Linked DNA regions of Homo sapiens: region 2 is linked to region 1. Evidence: fine-mapped expression QTL. A gene starts in region 1. The other region holds a variant in brackets. All regions are shown on one strand. Distances are from middle to middle.

Region 1 (14,281 bases):
AGGGGCCATGGCAGGCTGGGCACATTTGTCAGACACCCAGCCTCTGCTGATCATTTTGGGAAACCCATCCCCTCCCCAATTCCCCAGGCCTCAGTGAGCAAGGTCAATTAATATTTGTTAGTGGGTTGATTGATTGATGCAGTGAAGCAGCCTCTGAGGGCCGCTGTTTCACCATCCTCTAAATGCAGGTCCCCCCATGGGTCTTGAAACCATGATTCAGGGGTCTCCCTTATCCTGGCTCCAACCCTCTCCTTCCCTTTCCGCTTTTCCCCACTGGCAGACTCACCCTCTCAAGTACGATTTCCTCATATTTGAACATGCCATCACTGCCATTCACCTAGGGGGAGACACAGGCAGTTCCCTTAGTGCCCCCTGCCCTTCCAGCCATCTGCCCCTTAGTCAACCTGCCTCCTCCCCTACTCCCACAGAGTAGAAGAGCCCAAGTGCACCCCAGGTCACCTCTTGGCCACAGATGAGGACAGGCTGACCTGGAAGAGGCCGCTCCTCACTCACCCCACCAATCCCTGCTTTGCTTCCAACCATATCAGCCCAAACCAAGCTGCTCATTTAGCCCAGATCAATTGTCTGAGACTGAGCCAGCCAGTGGTGCACTCACCGAGAGGCTGTGCTTCAGTGTCTCAGGGTTCACTAGGAGGGGTGCAGGCCTGGCCTAAGGGGGATGGCAGAGATGGAGCATGGCAGGCAAACCATGCCACACCCAGTGTCCATAGGGGATACCCAGTGGCCTAGACAGATAACCCTTCCCCTTCTGAACCACAGTTCTCCCTGACTGGGGGATCATAGACTCCCACTGTGTCCGAACTGGAAGGACAGCAGACATCATCTTGTCCTATCCCCTTTATGTGACAGTAGGTGACACGGAGGCCCAGAGAAGACATGGGATGTGCCTAAGGGCACACTGGGAATTAGTGACAGAGCAATAGGATATCCAGGTGTTCTTTTGATTACAGTAAGCTCTTAAGGCCACTGATGTTTTGGTCACTCATCCCCGTACCCCAGCAGAGCTCATGGGAAAAAGGACAGTTGCCCCACTTTGGAGCACCTCGTGAGTCTTCACTCTATACCTCTTTCTTGGACTCCAGGAACCCAATTCCTCAAATAGGCAGAAGGAGTCAAAGTCCTAATCCATTTTCTACCAAAGGATTTTTGATTCTGAGCCCTTTGTTTTTCCCAGCAGAAAGGGCGAGGGTGGGATCTGGTCAGGAGTCAGAGACAAAGCCACGGGTGGGACTGGAGCAGGGTAGACAAGATTCCCCATGAGGGAGAAGTTGGTGACCCACAGGCTGATTGGCAGCAGAGTCCATGGTTTTCAATATGTAGTAGCCATGCAAGAAGAGGCAAGGGAAGGGGTCAGAAACACAGGGGTGATTTGGCCAACCCACAGAGATGGCCTCCCAGACAGGACATGTGTGTATCTATTTGTCAAGTGAAAATGTGATTCTGGACATACAAGCAGCACCTGCCTGCTGGCTCCCACTTTCACCTCCAAGAATGGAGAAGCCCTCTTGCCTGTCTCCCCAGGTACCCTGGCACCCCTCCCCCACCTTTCTCTGGCTATGTTGTCCCTTCCCTGACCTCTAGCCTCCTCCTCAGAAGTGGGGAGCTGGAAACCAGGGTGGGGGCTCCTCCACATGTCCTGCTGTGCTTCCCCCGTCCCACCTCCACCCCACACAGCTTTGGCTTCAAGAAGCAGAGAGGAGGAGAGGGAGAGAGGACTAGCTCATCATGCCTCCACCATTTCTGGGCTGGCTCTGCAGCTGTGGGAGTTGGTGGGAGGACTCCAGCTACAGCCTTACCCTGGTCTGTGACCCCAGGAAGAAGAACTGAAGGCTCCTTAGAGACCCGAAACCAACACAGCTGCCTTAAGTACCATGCAACAGACACATAAGCAAAGGGACACCCATGTGGCTCTTGTGTGCATTTGGTGTACCATGTGTGCCCACATGTGACAAGCCATGCCTCAAGCCCAGCCCCAGTGGTACCCAGAGGCTTCCCGTTCCCAGTGGTCCACGCTCTAGCCCCCACCCCTACTCAAGGACCTTGTTCTCAGGGCCAGGAGCCATCCAGGGATCAGCCCTGGCAAAGAAACCTTGGCCAACTGGCCCAGCCTGGGATTGCCACCTGTCTCCCAGCCGGGCAGGACAAGCATAAGAGGGTGTTTGCGAGAGAAAGGCCTCCAGGACAGAGAGGGGGCAAAGGAGAGAGAGGGACTCGCTGGAAAGGGCAAGAGGCCAAGGCAAGGGATGTGGGAAAGCAGTAAGTGTGGACAGACAGAAGGCCAGAACTGAGGGCTCTTCTCCCCAGGAAGTCCCCACCTTTGCCTCTGAGTGAGAGCACATCCTATCCCCAGAGGACAGAGGCAGCCAGAACGGTCACCAGCTTGGGGAAGTCATCACCTGCCCTCGACAGCAAAGCCTCCTCTTCCTCTCTCCCCACCCTAGGAGCTGCAGAGCCGGATAACCAGACAGGCCCTCCGCCTTGCGTGCCAGGGACCTGGCTCTGCCAGCCCAGCCTCCATTTTGCTGCTTCTCCCACAGATGCTCCTTCCATTTTCTAAGCTGGCAGTTTAGGCTGGGAGTGGAAGCCGGAGTTGTGCCCAGCACCCAGGGGCTCCCAAGCTGTGCCAAGTCAGGGCTGGGGGGCTAAGCCCTCTCACATCTGGAGGTACCCAAGGGGGACATGCCCCACTGGGGCCAGTCTCTGCACCAGGGCAGCTGCCCCTTGCCGGCTCCAGGCACCATGCCTGCTCTAGAGCGAGGAGGCTTGCTTCAGTTCCTTCAAATCTCCCCCCGCCCCCCGCCACCCCACCCCGGCACACACACTACAGAGCTGCTTGGACAAAAGAGTCCGTCCTTCTCAGCAGCCTCTCAGCCTTGCTTGGGACATGTCTCTCGCCTCCTTCCTCTCCCCTCCCTTGCCTGTCAAGCGCCTCTCACCAGAGACAACACATACAAACACACACTCACACACACACACCAGGCACACGCGTGCACACTCTTGCAGCCACATGCTCACACACATATACATGTAGCCACACACACAAACACAGCCATCCCTGCAGCCTCCTCTACAGAGACCTCTCCACATTCAGAGTGACATCTCCACACATCCATGTGCACATTCACACACAAAGGGACTGGGACGGAGAGGGACTCATGGCATCAAGGGATGAAGCTCAGCGAGCCGGGCACATGGGCTCCTCCACACGGATTCACGGCAGCTCCATTGCCTTCCTCCACACACCCCAACATACATACACACACATATGTCCCCCCTACGCAGAGCACCATGCCCCCTCCCCTCCCCTCCGGTGGAGACACACACCACACACAGCCCCCGCAGAACCTCCCGCCCCCTGCCAGACACAGAGACATTGCCAAACCCCCACACTGAGACAAACCCAATTCCCCCACACAGGAAAATGTGCCCCTCCGCCATGCCCTTACCCCCTGACACACGGCTCCTCCCAGTCTTCTAATGGAGACCCCCAAACAGACACACACAGGGAACCACACATTTCCCACCGCCTCTCTTTGCCCAGCTGCAATGCTAGGGCTCGGGGTCCACAGGCTTGGAGCCCCAGCGACCCCTACTGCATCCCAGGCCTCTAGGCCCCCACTCTCCAGCCCTCCTGGGTTGCCCCACCGCTCCCCCCTCCGCTGGTCCATACCTGCTCATACCAGTCCCGGTTGGTACAGGTGCACTCTGGCCACCAGCTGGGGCCGCTGCCGTTGAGTTTGGGGGTGCTCTTGCCCGGGACTGGCTTAGGAGGCACCGGCCCCACATCCCGGCCGGTGGGGATGAGCTTGGCCTTGGTGCGAGGGGTGGGGGTGGCCCCCGCCTGCGAGGGCAAGGTCTGCGAGCTGTAGCCCCCATAACCCGCGCTGGCGCCGTTGCCCCCACCTGGCCCGTAAGGGTCGGGGACTTGCCAGTCGCCGTAGCCCGGAGGCTCGAGGCGCCGCAGGGCGGCCAGGCGGGTCACCTCATAGCACTCAGGGCACTTACAGCAGTGCTGGTGCTTGTGCATGGCACTGCCCCCCGCGGCTCGGACCCCCCAGCCCACGCCGGATTCCACGCCGCCGCCACCGCCGCCACCACCGCCGCCGCCGCCGCCGGGCTCCCTGGCACACTCACACTGCTCGGACCAAGAAGGGGGGGGCACCCGTGGGGGCGCCCGGGCTGAGCGGGGCCTGGGGCCGGGCGGGCGTCCCGGGGCCTCGGCCCCCACGCTGCCCCGCACCCACGGCTCCCCCTCCAGCACTGGCGGCTCCGTGTCGCCCGTCGTGGCTTCTGGGCCGAGGCCCAGCGGCAAAGAAGAAGCGGGAGCTCAAGCAGAGAATGGGTGCTGTGAGGACCGCTTCTGCTCTGGTCCCCAGGATGGATCTGAGTGGAGTCAAGAGCATCTCTCCCTGGCTCCCTTCTCAGTTGATTCCAGCCAATCAGCGCGCAGAGGCAGGCAGCGGCAGCGGCAGCGGCGGCGGCAGGAATGCTAAACAGCGGCTACTTAAAGGAACAGAGGCAGCGGCGCCCCCAGGCTCAGCCCCAGCTCCCCCAATCTCTAGGGAACTGTTGGCTCTAAGGGCGGGGGCAGAGGACGTGGGCCACCAGAAAGCTCAGGCACCCGATCTTGTGCCCTTATATCGCCAGTTTTAGCCTGTCCTCTGCCCACTCCACCCCACCCCACTTCCAAGAGGGAGTTGCAGGGAGATGTTCAATGGGTCCCCAGGCTTGCTCTGAGCTGGGGCCACCAGAAGTAAAGACGAGGTAGCAGGATGGACAGAAAGGACGTTGGAGCAGGGTGAGGGAGGTGCTTTCTCTTACAGGGGACCAAAGAAGAAGGCAGCATATGAGGCCCGCTGTCCTGTCAATGCCTCCTACACAAGACTATTGTTCTCTCAGTCTCTAGGCCCTGAAATTACTGTGACCTCACACTTGACCTTCTACCATCACCAGTAAAGAACTCAACCCTAGAACAGGGATTAACAGAAAGCTCTAAGTCCTTGTCCCTGGCCCACAAACCCCTATCTCCTCCACTCCACCCCTGCATGGTTATGATGGGGGAAGGAACTTCAGGATATCAAGATGAAAGTCCAGGACAGGTGAAAAGGTAAGAAGGGATTTGAAGAGAGAGAAACCCTTCTATGGGTCTGGAATAGAGCTTAGGAATACTTGTCCAAGGACATCTCCTTACCCTCTCCTGGCTCAGCTTGTCGGGGGAATGGAGGAAGGATGACATACAAGAAAGACTATCTTTTTTGCAGTTCTTGTTTTGTTTTTAGCTACCAATTATTGGGTCTTTACAAAGTCCTAAGTGCATAACACGCAAACCCAAATCCTACCAAGCTGATGCTATTATTATCTTCATTTTACCAATGAGAAATTGAGGCTCAAAGATGTTAACACAGCTAGGTAACACAGCTGGAAGTGACAGAATCAGGATGCAAATCCTGATTATTTGACTCCAGAGTCCACGCTGTGAACCACTCTAGTACGACAGGTCTATTCTAAGTTCTCCTGCAGAATTTACATCTCAGTTCAATTCAGCAAATATTCATTGAGCACCTGCTCTGTGCAAGACCTTGACCTAGGTATTAGGGATACAGAGGTTCTTTTTTTTTTTTTTTTTTTTTTTTGAGATGGATTCTCATTCTGTCACCCAGGCTGGAGTGCAGTGGCGTGATCTCAGCTCACTGCAACCTCAGCTTCCCAGGTTCAAACGATTCTCCTGCCTCTCAGTCTCCCTAGTAGCTAGGACTACAGGCTCCTGCCACCACGCCCGGCTAATTTTTGTATTTTCTTAGTAGAGATGGGGTTTCATCACGTTGGCCAGGCTGGTCTCGAACTCCCGACGTCAAGTGATCCACCCACCTTGGCCTCCCAAAGTGCTGGGATTGCAGGTGTGATCCACTGTGCCCGGCCCTCAGAGATTCATTCTTAATTCAACAAATATGCGTGGAACACTTGCTGTGTGCCAGACACTGTTGTAGGATTTGGGGATATAGCAGGAAACAAAATAAAACAGAACAAACAGAACAAATCCCTGCCCTTGGGGAGCTTACCTCCTAGTGAGAGGACACAGACAAAAATAAACACAATAAATAAGTGAATTATGTAGTACAGTAGGTCCTCATTTAACATCATTGGTAGGTCCTTGGCAACTGGGACTAAGTGAAACAACGTATAACAAAACCAATTTTACCACAGGCTAATTAATATAAACAAGAGCTAAGTTCCTACAGCATATTTCTGGTCACAAAACATCACCCAGCTTCCAAATAAAGACCCAAAACACTTCTGATATTGAACATTGAAATAAATATGAGCTATGCATACATATAGAAAGATTAATGAAAACAAGTAAATAATTACCTAACCTTTGGTGAACCAGTGAGTGACAGCAGTGGAAGTGGTGGTGGGTTGAATCAAGGAATAAATGTATGCAAAGCGAAAATTGTAAGGAGCACCTCCCTACCACCATGCAGTTCAAAAGCAAACAATCACGAATATGGTGAGCTCGATGAGCACTTTCTTACCTCATAGTTTATTGTGCATTTGTATGATTATCAACTACTTGACAAATTTTTATTTTACAGTACTTTGTATCCATCCATCCATCCATCCATCCATCCATTCATTCATTTTTCAATCTGCTTATTTCAGTTCAGGGTCAAGGGTGGCCACAGCCTATCACAGCAGCTCAGGGTACAGGGCAGGAACCAATCCTGGACAGGATGCCATTCCATCACAGGGTGCGCTCACATACACACCCACACTCACTCACACTGGGACAATTTAGACACGCCAATTCACCTAACGTGCACTGGGATGTGGGAGGAAGCGCAGTACCCTGGAATACCCGAGAAAACCCACACATACATGGGGAGAGTGTGCAAACTCCACACAGACAGTGGCTCTGGCCAGGAATCGTTTTAGTTGTTTTTTTTTCCCCCTCATCAATGTTAAAACAAAATGATGTTGAAGAAAACAACATTATTCAGCATATACACCTGCTGTGTATATGGTGATAAGTGCCATGGAAAAAAATAAAAAGTAGAGCACAGTAAGATGGATTGGGAATGGTAGGGGAGGATACCAAGTTGTGATTTTTTTTTCAAGTTTTTTGCCCCCACAGTTTAATATGAAAGTTTTCAAACATACAGAAAAATTCAAAGAATTTTACAGTGAACATCCAATTACCCACTGCCTAGGATTCTCATTAACATTTTGCTATGCTTGCTTTATCATATATCTATCCTCCACATATCCTCTCCAACAGTTTTAAAAATGAAAATTTACAAACATACAAAAATATTGGAAGAGTAGTACAATGGACACCACTGTATGCCTTCCTTATCAAGTCGACAATTTGACTTGTTTTGATTGTTATATTTGCTCTGTCTATGTATCTATGTATCTATCCATCTATCTATATTTTTTAAAGAGTAGGTCTTGCTCACTCACTCAGGTTAGAGTGCAGTGGCGTGATCATGGCTCACTGCAACCTCAAACTCCCGGGCTCAAGCAATCCTCCCACCTCAGCCTCACAAGTGGCTGGGACCACAGGTGTGTGCCACCATGCCCAGTTAATGCTCTATCTATCTATCTATCTATCTATCTATCTATCTATCCCTTTTTCTGAACCATTTACATGTAAGTTTCATTACATGTAAATGGTTCCATTATTCATCTGTAAGTTTTGATAACTTCCTTTAGCCATTCTTTGTCTGCTGGCAACAAATTATCTTAGCTTTCCTTTGTCTGAGAATGTCTTGATTTCCCCCTCATTCCTGAAGGATATTTTCACCAGATATAGCATGCTGGAGTGCAGTGGTGTGACCATAGTTCACTGCAGCCTTGAAACTCCTGGCCTCAAAGTGATCCTCCTGCCTCAGTCTCCCAAGCAGGCTCCTCAGTAGGTGGGACTATAGGCGCACACCACTCCTGGTTAATTTTTTTATTTTTAGTAGAGACGAGGTCTCATTATGTTGCCCAGGCTGGTCTCAAACTCCTGGCCTTGGGTTATCCTCCCACCTTGGCCTCCCAAAGTATTGGAATTACAGGTGTTAGCCACTGTACCTGGCCACATTTGAATTCCTTTTCCTATGTAGGTAAGGTGTTGTTTCTCTCTTGCTGCTTTCAAGTTTCCCATCTTCAGTTTTCAGAAGTTTGATTATGATGTGCCTTGGGGTGAATTTGAGTTTATCCTATTTGGGGTTTGTTCAACCTCTTGAACCTGTTCATTTATGTCTTTTGCCAAATTTTCAGCCATTATTTCTTGAGTAATTTTTTTTAGCCCCATGCTCTTTCTCTTCTTCTTCCACATCTCCAATTATGTGAATGTTAAGTCCTTCGTTATAGTCCCAAGCATCCCTGAGGCTCTGTTCATTTTTTTTTCTTTGAGACTCTGTTTCATTTTGTCACCCAAGCTAGAATGTAGTGGCACAATCACAGCTTACTGCAGCCCCGATCTCCCAAGCTCAGGTGATCCTCCCACCTCAGCCCCCTGAGTAGCTGGGACTACAGGTGTGCATCACCACATCCAGCTAATTTTTGTATTTTTAATAGAGACAGGGTTTCGCCATGTTGCCCAAGCTGGTCTTGAACTCCTGGGCTCAAGTGATCTGCCCACCTCAGCCTCCCAAAGTGCTGGGATTACAGGCGTGAGCCACTGTGCCCAGCTCTGTTCATTTATTTTTTGTCTATTATTTTCTCATTGTTGTTCAGATTGGGTAATTTCTAATGTTCTATCTTTATGTTCACTGATTCTTTCCTCTGTCCTCTCCATCCTCCTTTTGAGCTCATCTACTGAGTTTTTTAGTTTGGTTATTATAGTTTGTTCTAAAATTTTATTTGATTCTTCATTATATCTCTTATTTCTTTGCCAAGACTTACTATTTTTTACATTCGTTTTAACCTTGTTTGTAATTGCTCATAGATTGCTCATAGAAGCATTTTTTTTAATGTTGGCCACTTTAGAATCTTTGTCAGGTAGTTGAAATCTTTCTCTTTCTCATTCAAATTGAGGGTCTCCTGGTTCTTGGTATAATGAGTGAATTTTTTTTTTTTTTAAGACACAGGGTCGGCTGGGCGCAGTGGCTCACACCTGTAATCCCAGCACTTTGGGAGGCCGAGGCGGGTGGATCACAAGGTCAGGAGTTCGAGACTAGCCTAGTCAATATGGTGAAACCTGTCTCTACTAAAAATACAAAAATTGCCTGGGCGTGGTGGCGGGTGCCTGTAGTCCCAGCTACTCAGCAGGCTGAGGCAGGAGAATCGCTTGAACCCGGGAGGCGGAGGTTGCGGTGAGCCAATATTGCGCCACTGACTCCAGCCTGGGCGACAGAGCAAGACTCCGTCTCAAAAAAAAAAAAAAAAAAGGACACAGGGTCTCACTATGTTGCCCAAGCTGACCTTGAACTCCTGGGCTCAAGTGATTCTCCCAACTCAGCCTCCTGAATAACTGGGACTATAGGTGCTGGGCTTAGATATAGAGTGATTTTTATTGCATCCTGGGAATTTTTGGATATTACAGTATGAGACTCTGGATTTCATTTACATCTTTTGTTTCTGGTAGGCTTCTTCTGACACGATTTTCATCAGAGGAAAGGGCCACTGCCTGGTTACTGCCGGGTAGAGGTTCAAGTTCAATTTCCCTCCTTGGTCTTGGTTGGTATGTGTGGTGGAGGCTTCTCCTTTCTACTGTGCAGGGGTAAAAATTCCAGCTCCCTACTATGCCTCTACTGATGCCTCTCTAGCTGGAAGGGGCAGAAGTGCCTTTTTACTGTTCCCCAGGTGGGCTTCCACTAACACCACAGTCAGGAGGTGGAGAGATTTTGGGAGGGGAGGAGAGGGAGGCTAATGGCCTCATCAAATGATATGTTGTGGTAAAAGTCCTGACTCACCACCAGGCTTCTCTGACACTGACACCACCCAACAGGAAGGGGTTCTTGTTACCCCTCAGGGATGGAAGTTTAGGCTCTCTACTCAGCCTTCTCTGACACTACCCCAGAGAGTACGGGGGAGCCTGGCCAGAGTGAAAATCTGGGTTATCTACTTGGCCTTTGCTGGCTTGGGTGCAGCTGCAGTTTTTTTTTTTTTTTTTTTTTTCTGTGGTGTGTGGTTGCAGTGGTGGTTATTGTCTAAGAGTTTTCTGTCTGGCTAAATTCCATTTCCTGGTCTTATGGCTAGAGAGAATAGGCCAGTTACTGGTGTTTGCATTTTTTTTGTCTGTGCCCATTGGCATTTCCAGGCTGCTGGCTTCTCCAGTACCTGATCTGGAATATTTGATACAACGAGAAAACCCAGGGAACTCATCACCTCGAGTTCAGGTCACTGGGGTTCCTAGTTAGTCTGCCCCCTTCCTCTTCTTTCATAGTCTTCTTATGTTTGTCTTATATATAATGTCCAGAGTTTTAGCTGTACTTAGTGTGAGGAATAGGGAGAAGTGTGTCTACTCTAACTGGGTCCATAACTGGAAGTCTTCCATCTTTTTTAAAAAATTAACTACATCGAGTTTTTGAAGAGTGCCAGTCAATTGTTTTGGATTTGTCTTTTTCCTCATGGTGTCATTTATCTCGTTCCTTTATACAGTACTCTCCCTCTTATTCATGGTTTTAACTTGCCATAGTTTCAGTTACCCATGGTCAACTGCAGTCTGAAAATATTAAATGGAAAGTTCCGGAAATAAACAATTTATAAGTTTTAAATAGTATGCCGTTATGTAATGAAATCTTGTGCTGTCCTGCTCCATCCCGCCCAGGATGTGAATCATCCCTTTGTCCAGTGTATCCACACTGCATACACTACCCACCTATAAGTCACTTAGTAGCCATCTTGGTTATCACTTCAGAATAATATAGTATATATAGGGTTTGGTACTATCTGCTGTTTCAGGCATCCACTGGGGGTCTTGGAACATATTCCCCATGGATAAAGGAGGACTATTGTACCCTGTATTTACTGTAAACTGGAAATTAAAATAGAGGGAATCTTAAATAGGTTGGTCAGGGTAGGCTTCACTGAGAACGTGGCATTTCAGCAAAGAATTGAGGGAGGTGAGGAAGTGAGCCATGCAGGGGGAAGCCAGTGCAAAGGTCCTGGTAAGGAGTGCAAAGGTCCTGGTAAGGAGTGCATCCGACTTGCTCAAGGAACAGCAAGGAGAATCAAGTGGCTTTAACAGAGTAAGGGAGGGGAGAACGCCAGGAGACGAGATCAGAGATTGAATAAGGGACTAGATTGTGTAGGACCTTGTAGACCACTGAAAAGATTTTGGCTTTCCTCTCAGAGAGATGGAGTGCCATTGGAGGGTTTCGTGCAGAGAACTGGCATGACGTGACTTGGGTTTAGCAGGATTGGTATAGCTTCTTTGCAGAGAATAGGCCACAGGGGCGAGGGTGGAAGCAGTGAGACTAGTCAGGCAGCTGCTGAAGTGATCCAGCTGAGAGGTGGTTGTGCCTTGGACCAGTGTGGTAGCACCAGAGATGATAAGTGGTTGGATTCTGGGTGTATTTGGAAGGGAGAGCTGACAGGATTTGCTGACAGATTGGATACAAGGTGTGGTTCCAAGGATTTTTTGCCAGGACAACTGGAAATGTGAAATTGCCATCAACTGAGATGAGGACAGTTTTAGGAGGGGTCATTTTTGGGGGAAAAGGTCAGCTGTTCAGAAACGAACATGTTGAGTTTGGGATGTTTGTTAGATGTCCAATTGGAGATGAACACAGGCCCTGCCACCAAGGTGCTCAAAGTGAAAGAAATGGAAATATGGAAGCAGATCATTACCATACCTGTGAAAAGTGGTATTTCAGGAGGGTGTACAGAAAAGCAAGTTATCAGTTCTGCTTGTTGGGGGGAAGGGGACTTAAGAAAAGTTTCACAAAGCAGATGATATTTTCAGTTTTGTCCCAAAGGGTGACTGGGCGTTCATTAGACAGAAAAAAGAAATGTATTGTTTTCTGTACTCCTAGACTTGGCACACAGTGATTGCTCAATCAGACCCAATCCAGTCACTATTTTTGTGAGTCTGGACATTACTTAACCTCTCTGAGACTTGGTATTGTAATCTGTGAAAAGGAAATAATCACAGTGTTCTTGTGAGGGTTAAATGTAGGACACTTAGCACACCACGTGGTACATAGTGGGTTAGTGTTAATTATGGTCATATGAATGAATGAATATCTTCCTTAATGACCAAATCTAGGCTAGGCTGGTAACCCAGGAGCCTAGTCTTTTATATGCTTAACAGTTTGTCAATAGAGATTGCTAGACTCCTTTCAACCTCTGAACTGCTCTGATTGAAAAATAAGCATTGATAAGCCTCGACTGAATGGAGAGGGTCAAACTACCCTCCTCAGGCCCCTTCCTTACCCCCTTTTTTGCCCTATCCCCTTTAACAGGTTCCTTCCTCCCTTCCTCCCACCCTCTCTCTCTTCATTTTTAATGATTGTGAGCAAAATCCCTTCAGACTCATAGTGGGCTTCTCCTCATTCCATAGGCTCCCTGCCGCTCAGACCGGACTGGGTTGACAAGGCTGGGAGGAGGTCAGCCACACTGAGACACTGTGACACTTAACTAGGGAACCTCCCTCCCAACTGCTAGGGCTCCAGCCTGAGACCCCAGGGAGACAGTCGCCCCCTACGGACCAAAAGCGCCCCACACCGCTGCAAGCAGCTCTGGTTGCTAGGCAACCAGGCGATGGAGGACTTCAGGAACGGATTTTCAAGCAGAGAGACCATTTATCTCCCCTTCCACCGCCACTCCGGCTCCTTCAGCAAGTAGACGGGGTTGGGACCGCGCGGTCTGCTGCTGTCTGTCTGATAAGCTGGGCTCATTCTTGAAAATAGAGCTTCACTGAGTGACCTCCATATTGTGCGTGGTGAAACGATCACTCTTGCCCCAAATGTGGTTTCATCTGGGGGCTGGAGACTCGGGTCGATGAAGGTGGAAGTTTCTGATTTGCAAGGAGGGGAGGAGCATTGTTGTGGGTGTGCACCCTTAGTCAATGGGAATTCTAGAAAATTGAGCTTGCGTGGGAATAATTTTGATCAGTCCATCAAGATTTCCTCACGATTCCCAATGTATACATTAGGAAACTCTTACGTTAGCCCATTAAAATAAAAAGGTCAATGGGAATGACAATATATAAAGGATCATTCATACCTCATTGGGGACAAGCAGTGGCTTTCATGAATACGGTTTCTCTCCAGACAAGGGAGAGATCATGAGGTCTGTAAATCCCTGTGAGTTGGGACAGAGCTCAACAAAATGGAAAGAAATAAAAAGAATGGCGGGGTTGGGGGTGTGATAAGCACAGAATCTGGCAGCTTCTGAGCTCTGTGTCTGGTTTGGGGATCCCCAGCTCTGTGCCCCCTGTGTTAGGACCATGCTGAAGCACTCCATCCTTATGAAGGCTGTGGGGGACCAGAAATCCATAGCTTTTCCTTCTAGTAACCTAGCATTCTGGCCCAGGAGTGGGTCCAGGCAGGCCAAGGCCATGACCAAAACAATCTTTCCACTTGGGACGCATCTCTGCCTTCTCGGCTAGTACAACAGAAGCTTGATTGTGGCAGAGCCCCAAGCCATGGCGAGCTTAGGGGAGAGCTGTGCCCAGGAGTCTCCTCGTGGGGTTTCCCTCAAGAGTTCCAAGGTAGAGATACCAGGGTGAGGTAACTAGCATCCAGACAGCATCTGGCCCAGCCACTGCTCAGTCCACATCTCCACAGGGCATAGTGGCAGGGGACGCTTCTTGCTCTCTGTGTTTCCAAACTGAACTGGGTCGGGGCTGTGCTCCTGCTCTATTAATAGCCCCCTAGCCCAGCCTGCTAGCCCCAAACCCGGATGCCAGGAGCTGTGAGTCAGCAGCTAAAAATAACGAAGAGCAACTACATCCGAACCCCAATGAGCAGCTCCCCCGGGTCCTCCGCCCTTAAGTTTTTGTCAGTGTCAGTCTCCAGCCCAGGGCCCAGGGCCTATAGGTTAAACCGCTTTAGCTGTCCAGTTCTCCTGGGAAGAGAGTGAGGATTTCCGGTGGCAGGCTCAAGGCTGCGTACCCAAGGCTAGGGGCTAGGAGAAAGGGGTCAGAGGCTGGCGCTGGGTTGGGGGGCCAGACGCTGGGTTTAGAGGGCCGCAGCTGAGAGTGTGAGAGCTGAGAGGTTGGGGCTGCAGGGATGGAGTTGCTGGAGGTCTTCAGGGTGAGGTTGGGAGGTGAGGGGAGGAAGAGACTGGGCGATTGGGAAGGGACAGAAAAGTAGGGATGGGGGAG
Region 2 (16,564 bases), 39 kb before region 1:
AAGTGTATAAAGTAGAGTTGACGTAAACATGTTTTCTAGATGCCGGGAATCCAACTGTTTGTAATTTTTTAAATATCTGAGCTTCAACTAAAATTGATGTAACAGTTTACTTCCGGCTGGGTGGGGTGGCTCACGCCTGTAATCCCAGCACTTTGGGAGGCCGAGGCGGGCAGATCATTTGAGGTCAGGAGTTCGAGACCTGCCTGGCCAACATAGCAAAACCCCGTCTCTACTAAAAATATAAAAATTATCTGGGCGGGGTGGTGGGCGCCTGTAATCCCAGCCACTTGGGAGGCTGAGGCAGGAGAATCGCTTGAGCCCAGGCGGCAGAGGTTGCAATGAGCCAAGATTGTGCCATTGTACTCCAGCCTGGGTGACAGACTGAGACTCCATCTCGAAAACAAAACAAAACAAAATAAAACAACAAAAAAAAATTAAAACACATACAGCACAAGCTAAGTAAAAACAATATAAACACAGATCAAAGTCAAAAAGATTTTGCCAGTAGTTAACTCTGCACATTGGGAATTGTACTATTCGGGCTTATGTTTTTAACCACAGCATGTGTTCCTTTCACAATTTTCAAAAAACATTAAGCCAATTAAAAAAAAAGTGGGGAAGCAGATATATCAAGCACTGGTTTGAGTCATTTACTTCAGATGAGGAACACGTTTGGTTCTAAGTTCCCTGGCAAACAAGGCAAAAAAGGAAGTTGTCTAACTCTAATTTCCCAATAAAAAATGGTACCCAAGTCTATCTGGATTTTGTTTGATGAATTTATGAATACTGAATGGACAAGAAATATGAACAGGATGGACAATGCTTTTTTAAGCTATGGTTTTGTAAAAGACATAGAAATGTAGTATCTGAGGTTTGAGATTCTGAACTAGACTATTATTCACAGTTGAGAATGCAAAAAAATTGAACAAGAATTTCCTTTTCTATCAATCAGAACTGCAAATAGAAAAAGAATTTTGCAGACCGCTAAAGCCTCAGAGGTCATTTTGTCCAACTTTCTATCTGATAAAGGAAATCCCTTAGATACTCTCTAAGTTTCTTTCCAGCTCTAGTATTTAATGAGTCTGAGTCTTTCCTAGATCTTCTCTACCAGGCTAATCATTCCCAATTCCCTCAACAATCCCTTCCTTTGTCATAACTTTTATTTGTTTTCCAAACCCATGATGTGGATTTTCTCTAAATCTACTTTGCCTCTTTTTCCTGCTTAAATTTTGTTTGACTAAGCTAGAAAATTTCCTCAAAGACAATGAAAGCCAGGCCCAGATATGCACACAGCCTCATCTAGAACTGCACACTGGGTGACTCTCAGACCAGGGCTCTTCTATCTCAGAAAATTTCATAAGGCCTAAGTCACAGTCACATGTGCTTTTTCAAAAAAAGCTAATTATCGGCCGGGTGCAGTGGCTCACATCTGTAATCCCAGCACTTTGGGAGACTGAGGCGGGCGGATCACAAGGTCAGGAGATGGAGACCATCCTGGTCAACATGGTGAAACCCCATCTCTGTTACAAATACAAAAATTAGCTGGGCGTGGTGGTGCATGCCTGTAGTCCCAGTTACTCGGGAGGCTGAGGCAGGAGAATCGCTTGAACCCAGGAGGCAGAGGGTGCAGTGAGCCGAGATCACACCACTGCACTCCAGCCTGGTGACAGAGCGAGACTCCATCTCAGAAAAAGAAAAAAAAGCTAATTCTTCACTCAGCTACATGTGGAAAAATACCATTCTTCCACTATTTAAATACTTAGTCTGGTTGGGTGCGGTGGTTCACACCTGTAATCTTAGCACTTTGGGAGGCTGAGGCGGGCGGATCACCTGAGGTTGGGAGTTCGAGACCAGCCTGATCAACATGGAGAAACCCTGTCTCTACTAAAAAATACAAATTAGCTGGGTATGGTGGTGCATGCCTGTAATCCCAGCTACTCGGGAGGCTGAGGCAGGAGAATCGCTTGAACCCAGGAGGCAGAGGTTGCGGTAAACCGAGATCGCGCCATTGCACTCCAGCCTGGGCGACAAGAGCAAAACTCTGTCTCAAAGAAAAACTACTTAGTCTTCTTTATACGGAGTATGTGTTAGATACATGGGAGATACAAGAACAAAGTTTATTGTCTTGTGGAGCTTACTAGGTGACAGAGGGTGTAGTATACTAAGGATGTTGTAGCAAGAAGCCCAAAAGGAGGACAAACCAAGGCCTAGAAGGATTCACAGGGAGTACAGATCACATCTAGTTTGGGGAAGCTACAAGGAGATACTGCTTTTTGAATTGGTTCTCAATGAAGATTTAGGATTTCAAAAGGTAGAGCTGGGGAGAGGTCCTTCCAGCTAAAGAGAACAGTGTAAGCAAAGGTCTGGAGGCAAGAAGCACAGGGTTATTTTCAGGGATCAGCCGTGCATCCAAGTCTGGCTGGGCCTCAGAGAATGGCAGGTTGGGGCCTGACTGTGGACAGCCTGCACTGTCCAGCTAAGGAGTTTGACATTCATTTAGTAGGCTTTATGGGACCAACTTCATTACCTCAGCTTTCTTATCCCATTATCCGGCTAAACTTTCATGTGGAAATAAAACCAGTAAAAGAGAGTAGGCCAGCGTACTAAAGTCAAACAACTTCTCCCATGAGATATATTTCGTGTAACCAAAAAAAGTATGTAAATTAGACCTTAATAATTTTTTTAAAAATATTGACTGCTTTCCTAAGATCTTTAAGAAGCAGCTAAACTGTGGCCATCTAGCAGTGACAGTCTGTCTTAGGAACACCCTGGAATCCTAATGAAGTGACAGGGACTGGCACCTCTCACAAATAAATGGCTCATGGTAGGTTTGATGAGAGGAAGAAGGAATACCTTTTTCCACAACACTGATATATTCTCCTCTTCCTCCTTTTATCCTTAGGGCAGGCACTAGAGAAAGTCAAGGCAGATACTCCCCTTTCAAATCAGGCTGAACCACTGTCCCAGGACGGAAGTCCTACACATGCAAGGCCCACATGACATAGCAACCAACCATTTCAACCTGACTCAAAATTAGAGTGAGCATGAAAAAAAAAAAAAAAAAAAGCAAAAGGTATTTGTCTCTTAATACCTAAAGAAAGGCCGCAATTAACCAACTGCCACCCTGGTCTCATTATGTGTGTGCTTGTGTGTGTGCACATGCGCACATGCATGCATATCTGTGTGTGTTTCAGCTTATCTGACAAGATAATGTGTTGGGAGAGTAGAAGGAAGTCTCAAAAACTCATATTCCTTCTGTACTTAAGATAAAAATAATTTCATTGAGGCCTCCAAGTTAGGGACTGGTCACATCAGAGGAAAACACTGTGCCATGAGAGAATAAAATTCATGGAAATATATTACCATCCCCAGCCTGAAGTCACAGTGCTTGATGTACAAGAAAGATGATCTGCCCCTGAATATGTTACTTCTTAGTTATGGCCACATATCTCTACGAAGCCAGGGAGAGCCAGAGCCTGGGTATTCCTGGAACTTTTCAAACATCAACGCCAGGCCAGAAAAATATTACATTCTTTAAGAGCAAGGGAAAGAGTGTAGCCCAGGGAAAATGTGACATGTAAAAACAAAGTGATGGTAGGCTACAAAACAGCTTTCCAGAGCTGTCATACCACCATGAAGAGCAGATGCAACTTCCAGGGGATGTGCAGGTTTGAGTTCTTGAGCTCATCTTCAGCACTCTAGCTCTCAAGGCTGCTGCTTGTCTCCCTAAGGAGAAAGTGTTCCCAAAGGTCTTGAAAGACAATGTTGTTTAAGAGGTGACCTTTAAAAATATCCTCGAAGGGATGCATGCACCCACCCACAGGGATAATGTACGTGCTCTAGAGGACTTTGTCCAGTCTTCCTTTCAGCTGGGTCCTCTCTGCTGGATGGAAAAGCAAGAATATAACCAGCTCAAAGTAAACAGATTATCAGGCAAAAGTCCTTGCAGTTGAGATCCTAAATTGTGAGATTTGGGTTGGAAAGATCCAGAGAAATTATAAGCACTTGGCACAGCCACCGTGATGTCTTAATGAACCGGAACGCAAAGCAAATGGTAACTAAGAAGGAAACTGGTCAAGCAGGTTTCTCGATGCAAAGCAAATGAGCATTTTAGCGCTATAGCCTCAAAGGCAAGGGGTTGCTTCTGCTAAAATAACCTAGTATTGTGCCCACCTCTCTACCTGTGGCTCGAGCCATCTGTCTATAGCCTGAGATGCTCCGTCAGTCCCCTCACCCAGCTCAGCAACTCCTCTGAGGCCCAGCCTAAGTCTCTCCCAGCTTTGTGATCCTGCCCACTCCAAATTTCATTCTTCTAAATCCATACTGTATTTGCTACCACATTTGGCAGCAACCTTTCTTTATATTTTCTACTTATTGCTATTTAATTCTTGCAAGGTTTTTTTAATGTTTCATATTACACCGCCAAAGTGGAAGCCCTTTGAAAACTGAGACCATGTCTTATGCTTCATGTGGGATTCTGAATCCTTGTGAATGGTGGGTGAGACCTAGCTACAGGGGATGGAGTGTCCACAGAAGACCCTCCCAGTTACTCCCTAGTTTCTAACCCTGAGAGTGTTCCCTCCCATAGTAACTGGGGCCTAAGATATCACTTTATTCCTTTGGCCAGAAAGTACTGGATAAAGGGCACACATTATTTGACAACTAAGCAGCCCATCCCTTGCCCAGTCTGTATAAAGCATGCACAGAAAGTTATAAAGCAACAGTCACTCATCAGCCCTTGACCTTAGTAAGAATTAAATTTCCAGCAGCCTCTGAAGAGCAGCCTAACAGCACAAACCCGAGCACTCAGACAGGCACAGTGTGGGTCAACACAAAAGGAGTGATCGGGCCTCCCTGGTGTATCTTGAAGAAAGGTGCATGGAGAGCAGGTTAAGAGCACCTTCCTCCTTTGTCTGTCTCAAAGTGTCAGGCCTTATGGCAATTATGATGTTGGAGAGGCATTCAAGGACCAATTAGCCCGCAATGAGCGACTGTTTGGGGCTCACAGCACTTGCAGATGATAGGATGAGCTGAGGGATTATGAGTGCAAGCCCAGGACTAGTGTTTGGGAATAGGTAGTTCTAGAAATCACTGATGCAGGAAGCTCTGCCCCACCCTCTGGTAGCCCTGAACACTTACATACATTATTGTTGCTTTTTAAAATACATATTATCCCCACCCCCAAATTCTATCAGCTAGTGAAGCCTGCCAATATTTCCCCATTGGCATCTTAATACACTATTGAAACTCATTAACAAGCAAGACCAAGTCAGGCTCCACCAAGCACCACCCTGGGCAAAGCAGAGTAGTTGCACAATTAATGTCTGCTTGTTGACAGGAATGAGCATTCTCCAGCCTTCTTTAATGAACAAGCCAATATGTCTGACATTGTTTCTTGAATCAAGACTACAGATGCTCTAACATGATTTCCTTCCTAAGACGACTGAGATGGCAGATGGCCAGTCAGGAGGCCAGGACTCCCAAACTACCTGAATGCCATCCTATGGCTGCAAAGAATGCAGCCAGGCTAGCCCGAACGGACTTTCAAAAGCTATTTCTACAACTGTACTCTTGAGCCTCTTGGCAACCTTTGGAGCACAAGGGTCTTTGCTTTACTCATTCAATAAATTAAATTAAATTAAATTAAATTAAATACAAGTATAGAACAAGGTCATCCCTGGAACTCTAACTTACTCAGTGTCTTTGTACTGCCTTCACATCAGAATGGTCTGAGTTAAACACCTACCCATCCCAACCCTAAGCAAGAAGTTCAAGAGAGGTTTATTTCTGTGGACTCTTCCAGTGGGCAAGGCAAATCCTCCAGCAGAGCAAAAGCCCTAGGCTGGGCAGACTGAGGTGCTGTGCTTATCCCGGTCATCTACTTAAGAGATAATTCTAGCATAGTGAAGTGTGAGGAAGGTCCTTCCAAATAAGTCACTGATGACTTTAAAATCAAATTTCATTCTCCAAATACTGCTCTCGTTCCTTCTTCCTCCTGCTCCCTGCTCTACAAACCCCACGTCCCCTGTGGTTAGTACAGCTGCAGCTCCCTAGGGTTTCACCTGTTAGAGCCTCTGTTGCAGCTCTAAGAGAGTGTTATTTACTTCAAAATAGCTTTGCAAACACATGTACACCAAAGGGAGATAGATACTCAGGGGAGGGGAAGGAAAGCAAAATAATCATGTCATAGGGAAAGCGACAGCAAAATAATCAGAGGTGACACCCAAACTGAAAAAGGGTTCCCTCACTTTAACCACCTGCCGCTTAAATCTTTTCTGGGTAGATGGCGAACTGCCAGAGGGCAGGGACCATACCCGCTGCTTCCTTGAATATACCCTGCAACTGTGCCCAAATTCTTAGCCTTGTGTTTTACTGCTTTCTACATAGTAGGAGCTAAAGTAAGTGTGATGTTTATTTTTTATAATTTTTTATAGAGACAAGGTCTTGCTCTGTTACCCAGGACGGAATACAGTGTCATGATCATAGCTTACTGAAGTCTCAACCTCCTGGGCTCAAGTGATCCTCCTGCCTTAGCCCCCTGAGTAGCTGGGACTACAGACACATGCCACCACACCTGGCTAATTAAAAACTTTTTACTTTTTAAGAGTGGGGCTCACTATGTTGTGCAGACTGGTCTCGAACTCCTGGGCTCAAGCAATCCTCCTATCTTGGCCTCCCAAAGTGCTGGGATTACTGGTGTGAGCTGCCACACCCAGCCTTGATTGCTTGTTAAAAACATATATTTTCCTGGGCAGGGCGCGGTGACTCATGCCTGTAATCCTAGCACTTTGGGAGGCTGAGGTGGGCGGATCACGAGGTCAGGAGATCAAGACCATCCTGGCTAACACGATGAAACCCTGTCTCTACTAAAAATACAAAAAATCAGCCGGGTGTGGTGGCAGGCGCCTGTAGTCCCAGCTACTCGGGAGGCTGAGGCAGAATGGCGTGAACCCAGGAGGCGGAGCTTGTAGTGAGCCTATATCGCGCCACTGCACTCCACTCCAGCCTGGGCGACAGAGCGAGACTCCGTCAAAAAAAAAAAAAAAAAAAAAAACACCACACATGTATTTTCCCAAACCTGATGAATCCAAAGCACTAGAAAAGGAGCCTGGGAATCTGTATTTTTACTAGCATTCCAGCTGATTCCTATGAGGAAGTTGGGGAAACACTGAAAGAACCACACTTTATAGTCAGAGCAACCAAGTTCAAGTTCCAGTTTTTGAACTTCTTAGCTATCTAACTGGAGTCTCAGTTTTCTCATCTGCAAAATGGGAATCATAATATCTACTCTGTAGGATTATTAAAGGGATATTAAAAGCCATTTAAAGAGAATAACAAAGGTCTTGATGAACAATGTGTTCCCTAAATGTTTGTTCCCCTTTATCTTGAAGACACTGAGGAACTAGTGAAAGCTTTTGAGCAGATCATGTTCAGATTATTGCTTTAGTTTCAACCCCCTCTGCAATACCCAGGCAAATGGTTGCCCAGCCTCTTCTGTAACACCTTGAGTGACTAAAGATCGAATTTACTATATCCGGAAGCAGTCCATTCCATTTTCAGACAGTTTTAATCATTAGCTCTTCCTTCCTTATGTTGAGCAGAGATCTGCCTTGGGTGACAGAACAAATCTAATCCCTTTTCCACATGATAGGGTGAGGCAATTAACTTAGATAAGGAAAGTACATGCCGCTTGTTTGAGGCGCTGAGAGGGCAGTTTTATTTATGCACATGTCCAGCAAGTAGTAGATATGCAGGTCTGTAGTTCAGTAAAGAGATCAGGAATGTCATTTATACGGCAGGATTTGAAGCTGTGAAAATAAATGACATTGCCATTTAGGGGGGCAGAGCTAATGAAAGGTATTAAGGAATGGTAAGCAGGGTAGAAAGAGAGCCTTTAAAGAAGAAAGCAGGTAATTCATGGAAACAAATGTGGTGAAGAGGTCAGAACAATGTCAGAGAACCAGTGAACCAGTCACTAAATTTGAAGACTAAGAAGTCACCCACTGATCCCTGACAGAGAGTCAGGTTTCTGCTCCCCTGGAGCTTTCCAGAGCTGTTCAGAGCCACACTACCACACTGAAAAGCAGATGCACGCTTCCTTTCGGGCTAGTGAAAGAGAAGTGATTTGAAGCAGCAGCAAGTACTCCAACATTTCCCAACCTGGATGTTGACATAGGTTTCTCAAATAAGGCTCCCACGCTCTATCTTTTGGGGAAACACTGCCTAGTACAGTCCTTCCTGGAGATTAATCACAGGAAAGAGCCCCATTTTCCTCTGTTTAAGCCTGCATTTGCCCAACTTACTAAACCACTGATTTTTCACACAATACTTAGTAATATCTTGAGGAGCTAGTGTTTTCTGGCCAATAATTTGGCAAATGCAGTAAGCAAAGGGATACAAGACAATAGTTTAAGGGACTATTGGTATCAAGGGATATTTTCTTCTTTTTAAGAATGGAAGAAGCTTAAATATGTTTACATGCTGAAGAAAAGGAACCAAGTGTAGAGTGAAGGGCCAAAATCAGGAACAAAAGGGAAGAGAGTAAGCCAGGTTCTGATAAAGGGGTTAGCTTAGCAAAGGGCCTCAGCTCAATGCTTTAGCCATAAGACATTAAGTGCCCCTGATTAAATCTAGTGATCACAAATGGTTACTATTTTCCTAACCACATCTACTTTCCTCAGAGGATACAGATAATTTATCTAGAGAAGGTTACGGGCAGATTATATAAACTGATTCACTAGACACAGTCATGGTCTCCACCCTCGCCCCAGAGTTAAGCTAAGTGTATCCCTTTAATTCCCTTGCCTGAGCCAGGGAAGAGTGCTCCATATCGGGAGCCAATGTCCCACTCCCCCTGCCCAGGCAGAGAGAACTCTAACACAGGATAGGCGGAGAGGGGAAATCTAAAAATAAAGCTCTCCAAAGAAACTGTCTTGCCTAAAGAGCAGCTTCCCACGCACACTGGAGTGCCACATCTGCGGGGGCTGGAAGCACGGAACGGAACAATCCTGACCAAGTCATATAACCATTACCTATTTTGGGGGGTCGACAGTGCATTTCTGATTTCACCCATCAGCACCCCAGTATCCAGGCTGCAGACTGGGAGCAAGGGCTTTAGTGACAGAAAACAAAACTTTCCTTTCCGGGGAATTGGAAAAATGACCAGTGACTAGTCCCGCCTTCCTACCATTCTCCCTTCACAGCGGGAGGTAAGCATAGCACATGCTTTCAACACACAAGGGGTGGAGTTGAGGGTTC[A/C]CATTAGGAAAGATTGTGAAGGGTTCTAGTGGGCTTCAGGCTCAGAGATGGGCTCCTTTAGCTCCACTCCCTGCGGTAGAGTCAGGGACCACCAACTGGGGAAAAAGAAAAGCAAGCACCATGAGAAAAACTGCAATTAGCGTTGACATCCCTTCACTATTGTCCTCTCACACCCCAAGGACAGAGCAGTTGTCACGTTGCCAAGCAACTAGCAAGTGCAACTTCCCAGCCAGGTATCAGAGGCCACTAGAAAAAGTTCAGCCCAAGAGTTTGATATGACCCCACACCTAAGCATTAAACACAATACTGTAGCAACTTCTGGCTCAGGAGAGTAATCCCCACCACCTTTCTCTAAGGGCTTTAACCTTGGAGGATACAATGTACTTGGCACCAGATTTTGGAGTTTTGCCAAGAAGCCAAAGCAGGAAGAAGGAAGCTATCCCTAATTCTATGAGGAGTCCACAGTATTCACTTGGCACTCCAACTCCCCAGGAGATTTGTACTTTGACCTGACAAAGTATTAAGCTATGCCTCAAGGGTCAGAGAAGCTCAACCTTGGAAATATCTTGGAATAGCTTTCAGCAGCAATATACTCCATGCTACCTATCTGTTCCCTCCACCCCCTCCCTCTTCCTAGGGCACATACACTATACATCCCATGATTCATAGATACAGCAGACCAGTGCAGCGGGTGGTGAGGGGGGAATGGAATCACAATAAAACATCCAGAATGCAGCAACCTGTCAGTTCTTTGGTCTCTTAAAAGAGATCCTGTACCAGAACACTGCGATAGTTGCTATGCTCAGATACAAATCCTGATGTCTATTATGCATACATGGAAGGGGATGGGGGGGTGGCAAGTTTCCCCTCAAAGCACAGATTGCAAGCAAAGTACTTTGAACATTTGACTGATATTTGAATGCTGACTAGCAACAATCACCCAACAGTCTTTTACAATTAGAGCAAACTGAAATTTTCCCATACTGAGTCATTCATGAGCTAAAAGGAAGAAGCCAGCTCACAAAAGGGAGGAGACACTGACCATAAAATACACAACCTAAGCATACAGTGAGAAGCGTTATTTTAGAACTGGGAGTACATACTCCCTAGCCCACTAGTTAAATAAGAAGGGCTGGGTTGGCATGGAGCTCTCCTCGTCCAGCACAAGGGCTAGTGCTCTGAAGGGCAACTTACCTGACATACAAGGACCTCTTTTCACTTGTTCGGAGGGACCCAGACCCAGAGCTCATGCTGCTGTTCATCATTTGTTCTCGTAAGTCATGTATCTTCGATTCAAAGCGACTGTATTCTGTCACGGAAACAAGGGAAAAGATGGGAAAAGAATGAACTCAAGGAGCGCCTCTGAGCTTGCATGCCAGCAGCCAAAAAGCCAGAAGGCCCCTTGGCTTAAAAGCAGCCAGAGCCAGCCCACTCAGTCTTTGCTTTGATAAGCAAAGTCCCTCCTCCTAAGCACAGAAAGACAGACTTCCCTTCAACCCCAGACTAACAGAAGGAAAGAATGCACCTGAAAAGGGAGTAGCATTTGGGCAGGTCAAATGCACAAAGCTCTTATCTGCCTCAAAATGTCACTGATCCTTTATAAAAATAACAACTGGAAAGAGGTTCCAGTGCAACCTTTATAAATCTTTAGAGCTGACACTAAGGCCCAAGGAGAGCAGATGGGAAAGGAGACTTTCCCAAAAAGCGGATTGCAGAGAACAGATGGCCCTGAGACGCAGAGCGGAGGGGCTGGAAAGGACCTGAGGTCAATTATATCATTGTTAGGCAAGAAGACAATTTTTTCAGGATGACTTTTTGGCTGGGGTGAAGGGGGGTGATATTGGAACCCAGTACAGAGGTAAAAACAAACAAACCTCACAACCGTAACAACCATATGAGGAGAATTAAAGCTCTCCTGAGTTATTTCCCTTTTAACCAATAGCCTCTTTGGCTTCAGTAGCATACATTAAAACATAAATTCTCCCAAACCGAGAAGTCGGCTGACACCTCTCACCTCCAAAATCATCCAGTCAGTGAGGTCATAAGTCCATCCCTAACCTTATAGCCCATTGAGACCATCACAACAGCTGGAAACAGCCTTATCACTCTGGAAATGTAATACAGGTTTATGCCGAATTTAAGAAAACCTGATACAAGAAAATTAACTCTAGCTGTACAATTATTATAAAAGGCTTTTTATAGGGCTGCTTTGCTGTGACATTCTCCTAGGACATTTAAAATACAATATTCACACTTACCAAACACACAATTACACATTTTCCAGGCCTATAATTGCCGCATAAAATGGGGTATATCTAAGGCCACAGGCCGTGGAAATGCTAGAAAACAGGCACACTTCACTATGACAAGCTGACTTTGAAGCGAGTCAAAATTTATACTAGGGGTTGAAGGTTGGGAAACTGCTTTAAAAAACAAACACACTTCCAGGGGAAAAAATTCCACAAAAGCAATTTCGTGCACCATAGAGGGCTGGCAAGAAGCATCCCCACCTAGTCCGTATGACTCTACAGGAGAAAACAAAACACCTGTTCCAGCACCTGACACTCCCCTTCCCTCTGCAAAGCAACCAGACTGACCTTCAACTGGGTGTAAGGGGAATTGCTAAAGCCTAAAGGGGAAGGAATGGAGTGAGGCAAATAACCTCCTCTCAACAAAGTTTCTTTTGTTCACTGTGATATCAGTTTAACCAACGGGTTAAATTCGTGTGCTCTTTCATTCATCACACGCCGGTGTTATGGTGATTTGTCCTCATTACCTACTCCTGTTCCTGAAATCCTGGAGGAAGCAGTTAAGTCACTGACTCACCCATTAAACGTTGCGGGGGGTGGGGTGGCGGAGGGTAGAGAGACAACAGCTGGACAATGTTCCTGTTCTGAGGGTTACACGGCAAGCCATCAATATCAATGAGGTGCCCCAACCTAAGCCCTGGACTGTCCTAGAGCATAACAGCAGGCCAGTCTACCTCTGGAGACCGCCTGGGTGCTGGCCCCACCCCAGGGCTTGGCCCTCTACACTGGGTGGGGATTGTTTCTCATTTGTTCCTTTCTGGCCCTCCTCTGAGCTCACCGGCTATGGGCAGAACCGTGTGAGACAAAGATTTCTGACCAGGCAGCCCTTTCTTAGGGGAAGATAAGTCAAAGAGAGAAAGAACTATGCATTGAACTGTGAACAAAAAAGTACACCCAATCTATCTTTAAGCCATGTTTTCCCCTTCTTGAAACTTGTTTATATATTCCCTTCTTTGGAATCGACTTGCCCGCTGAACTCCAACTTAGCAGCAGGTCATGGCAGTTGCTTAGTAACTACATTTCTTTAAAAATCCTTTAAAAAACAACCACGAAACCACCATTTCCTCAAAGCTCCTAATCCAAGGCTGATAATTCTGGGCCAGAGGGCCCACTTAAAATAGACTACAGAAAGAGAACAAAGCTATTGCTCTAAGGCATACGCTTTTTGTTTTTACATGTGCTGCTAAAATTTCAAGTTTATTAAATTGTGTTTTATTCACTTTTTTTTCCATTTGGATGATTCCCTTAGAGTTCCAGCTGCCCATCAGTCTCTGGCTTTTATTTGTAGATTTATCTAAAGTCTACTAGGCAGAGCAGCCTTTGAATAAATGATTGTTGGGTAAATGAGGAGCAAATTAGAAAACTGTGTCCAAGTTGACACTTCTATTCTTAAACTAATAAACTTAATGGTTTATTTAACTGATGGCTGCCAGCTTCACTGAGGGCTTAGAAAGGTGGTTAAGAAGCATTCACATTTACTTTTGTTCCCAAGGTTAATTGTTGGGAGCAATTGGGGTTTATTATTTTTAAACACCCTTTTGAGATGTTAACAACCCACAATAGGCGGCTGATTAACAACTTTTTACAACAAAGAAAAATCATTCTAACAAAAAACTGTTTAGAATAGACTTAGATACTACCTCATCTTAAATATTAGAGGTATCATTTTCCCAGGACAAAAGCTTCCCTTAAAAAGCATCTCAATTCTAAGACTTCAGGACTCGCCAAGCTCCCTCCTTCCCTCTGATTTGTCACTAACACAGCCATCGCAGCCAATGCTGGAGGACATCTCCTAGGCCAAAGTCACCGCCTAGGAAGCCCACCTGACCAGCCTCTAACCCAGAGGGCCCACTTCAAAGAAGCAACACTAAAATCTCAAGTCTACTAAACTGCTTTGTTTTTTCCCATTCAGATGAACCCAACTGTTTGTGACCCACAAAGATATCCAGTCATCGCCCTCTTTCCTTTTTCCCAGTTGCTAATCACAGAGAAACAAGTGGGAGGGGGCACAATCAGAAGTCAGTACCGAAGAAGGGTTTTGCCCCAGTCACTGACAAGTTGGGGTGCCTCTAAAAGATCAGGATTTGGCACCCCATCCCAGATACACAGAATCAGAATCTACTGAGCAGGGGCCCAGGAATCTGCATTTTAACAAGCATCAGTGTGATTCTGATAAAGTTTGGAGCTGCTGGTCTTAACTTACAGAATTGGATCCTGCAGTGTCTCTGAAAAGAAAGGTGGGGCCAGAGAGTGGATAAGCTCTCAAAAATAAAACTTGGTAATACAATTGCAAATCCTTCAGGAAAGGAAAGCCCTAAAGATGCCACAGTCTTATGTGCCTGCAAAGAAAGCTGCTGAGTTTACACTTTTTAAAAATTCTGTATCACTTCTCCATCCCACTCCCCAGAAGATACCACTGTTGGTATTTTTAGTATGTGTCCTTCCAGACTTACTTCCATGCATATATGGCTTATATACATGTACTCACAATTCACACGCAAGCTTTTTTCATTTTCTGATACATCATGAAAACTCATCCATGTTGGCCAGGCATGGTGACTCATCTGAGGTCAGGAGTTCAAGACCAGTGTGGCCAACATGGTGAAACCCCGTCTCTACAAAAATCAGCCAGGTGTGGTGGCCACACGCCTGTAGTCCCAGCTACTAGTGAGGCTGAGGCAGGAGAATCGCTTGAACCTGGGAGGCGAGGGTTGCAGTGAGCCGAGATCGCGCCACTGCACTCCAGCCTGGGTGACAGAGCAAGACTCTGTCTCAAACAAACAAACAAACAAAAAATCATCCATGTCAGTACACAGACTTCATTTTAATAGCTGCATAGGATTCCATACTATGGACAGACCATAATTTATTCAGTCATATTTCAATTGATACACATTTAAGTTGTTTACAATTCTTAATATTACAATCAATGCTGCATTGTGTATTTGTGGGTTTTTTTTTGTTTTTTATATTTTATTTTTTGTAGAGATGGGGGTCTCACTATGTTGCCAGGCTGGTCTCGAACTCCTGACCTCAAGGAATCCACCTGCCTCAGCCTCCCAAAGTGCTAGGATTACAGGCATGAGCCACCATGCCCGGCCTGCACTGTATATTTGTTTGAGCATTTCTGTTGCATAGATTCCTAGAAGTGAAACTGCAGGGTCAAATTATATGCAAATTAAAATTTTTGATTAGCACTACCAAATTGAACCCCAACATCCTGAAACCTTTCTGACTAAGGATAAACTACTATTCCACTCTTCCAGCACTTTTTCTGTTTCTGAAGTGGAGGCAGAATTTACCTTTGAGGACAAATTGATCTTTTGTTTGGAGAAAAACAGTTTAATGAGCCTTTTGGTTATGCAAAAGTAAAGATTTTATTCTGGAATGGACAAAGAGGAGCTAAAATGTTGTCTGCATTATAATAGAAAAGGTGTCCTCTTGGTGAGTGGAGTTGCTGGTTCTCCAGGTTAGGCCTTAGTCCACAGGTCTTTCTCTCCCTCTTTCCCTGGCCCTGTTTAACCATGAGTTAAGACGCTGTTCCACCTACATGACACTATATCTACCTCTATAAGTATCTACCTAATTTGACTACATTAAATCTGCCCCCAACTTGAAAACCAAGCCTTTTTTTTCCTCATGCCAAACCCCCATTACTGTAAACGACACCCCCTTTTCCCTGCATACAACCAGTGTTTCCTCAAATTTTGCTGATGTTTCTTCCTAATTGCTTCCTCAATCTATTTCTTTATACTTTTAATTGTCATTGCCGTACTGTTGATTTCGTGTCTTAATTTTCCCTTGACTATTTTATTATCTCTTCTCTGGGCCACTGCTGTACCTCCCTAACTGGTCTTCTGCCCCAAGGCTTTACAAACTCAATCCAGATTAGATTCTTATTTGAAAAGCTTTCCTAAAGCTTGAATTTGTAGCCCCCCTGTCCAAGTATCTATAACGACTCAATGAGCACTAAAGAATTTTACTTTTACTATGTCAGCCAAACTTTCAAGGACTGCTACAACCATCCTCCCATCACAGCCAGCCTATCTATCCCACATCTGAATTACACAGGTCTTCTTTTGAGCTAGCTTGCCTGGACCCCTTGAATACAGCTTGTTCAGTTCTACCTGTTATTCCCTGCTCCTGAAACATTTCTCCCCTGCCTGACACTGAACAACCTTTACATCCTTCACCATCTTTCCTACCTCATTCCAAGAAGTTTTATTCATTCATTTATTTATTCAAATATTTTCTAAGTTTGGGCACAGTGACTCACACCTGTAATCCCAATGCTTTGGGAGGCCGAGGTAGAAGTATTGCTTGAAACCAGGAGTTCAAGACCAGCCTGGGCAATATAATGAGACCCCAATTCTACAAAAAATTCAAAAATTAACTGGGCATGGTGGTGCACACCTATAGTCCTAGCTACTCGAGAGGCTGAGGTAGAAGGATCACTTGAGGTCAGGAGTTTGAGGCTGCAGTGAGCTATGATCACACCTCTGGACTCCAGCCTAGGTGACAGAGTGAGATGCTGTCTCTAAAAATAAAAAAAAATAAAAAAAAATTACTGAATGTCTACTGTGTATCAGGCATTGTGCTAGCTGCTGAGAATATAATGGTAATCAAAATGGTCCCTAGAAATTACAATTACAAAACAAACAATTATTTAATTACAATTGTGATAACTGTGATGAAGAAAATGCTAAGAGAGAGACTAATAGGGTGACTTAACCTACCTGTGGGAAGGGGGTGGAGTTCAACAAAGGTTTCCCTGAGGAAGTGACATTTAAGCTGAGTCCAGGGAAAGGGCGCTGGTGAAGAAAGCATTCCAGACAGAAGGAACAGCATTATGTAAGGGTACAAAATGTATGGAACACAGGAAAGCAAGGGGATACTGGCAGGAGATCAGACTAAGAGGTAAGCAGGGGTCAGATCATACAAGGCCTTGTAAACTATGGTAAGGTTATTTGCTTTTTTTTTTTTTTTTTTTTTGAGAC

Alleles and levels. Alleles are on the strand shown, and positions count from the first base shown. SD is a standard deviation of normalised expression in the study named.
With allele A in place of C in region 2, the expression in thyroid of the gene that starts at base 4,415 in region 1 is higher (small effect, 0.15 SD a copy in GTEx).

What was found.
Region 2: its variant is fine-mapped to the expression of DLG3 in thyroid (GTEx, PIP 0.95).

What each region holds. Positions count from the first base shown.
Region 1 is chrX:70,434,969-70,449,249 of GRCh38, reverse strand. It overlaps DLG3 (discs large MAGUK scaffold protein 3), which reads right to left and starts at 4,415. Exons shown (of 19, transcript NM_021120.4): 1 at 3,692-4,415; 2 at 287-337. The coding sequence starts at 4,048. It overlaps LOC105373244 (a long non-coding RNA gene), which reads left to right and starts at 13,957. Exons shown (of 3, transcript NR_171576.1): 1 at 13,957-14,281. RefSeq lists enhancers at 4,111-4,897, 13,351-13,851, 13,839-13,918, 13,939-14,038.
Region 2 is chrX:70,473,153-70,489,716 of GRCh38, reverse strand. It overlaps DLG3 (discs large MAGUK scaffold protein 3), which reads right to left. Exons shown (of 19, transcript NM_021120.4): 10 at 10,453-10,567. Among named protein-coding and RNA genes, the nearest start is that of DLG3-AS1, 25 kb to the right of the region's middle. RefSeq lists enhancers at 9,164-9,665, 11,724-12,622 and a silencer at 14,148-14,267. The variant A/C (reference allele first, on the strand shown) is at 9,259.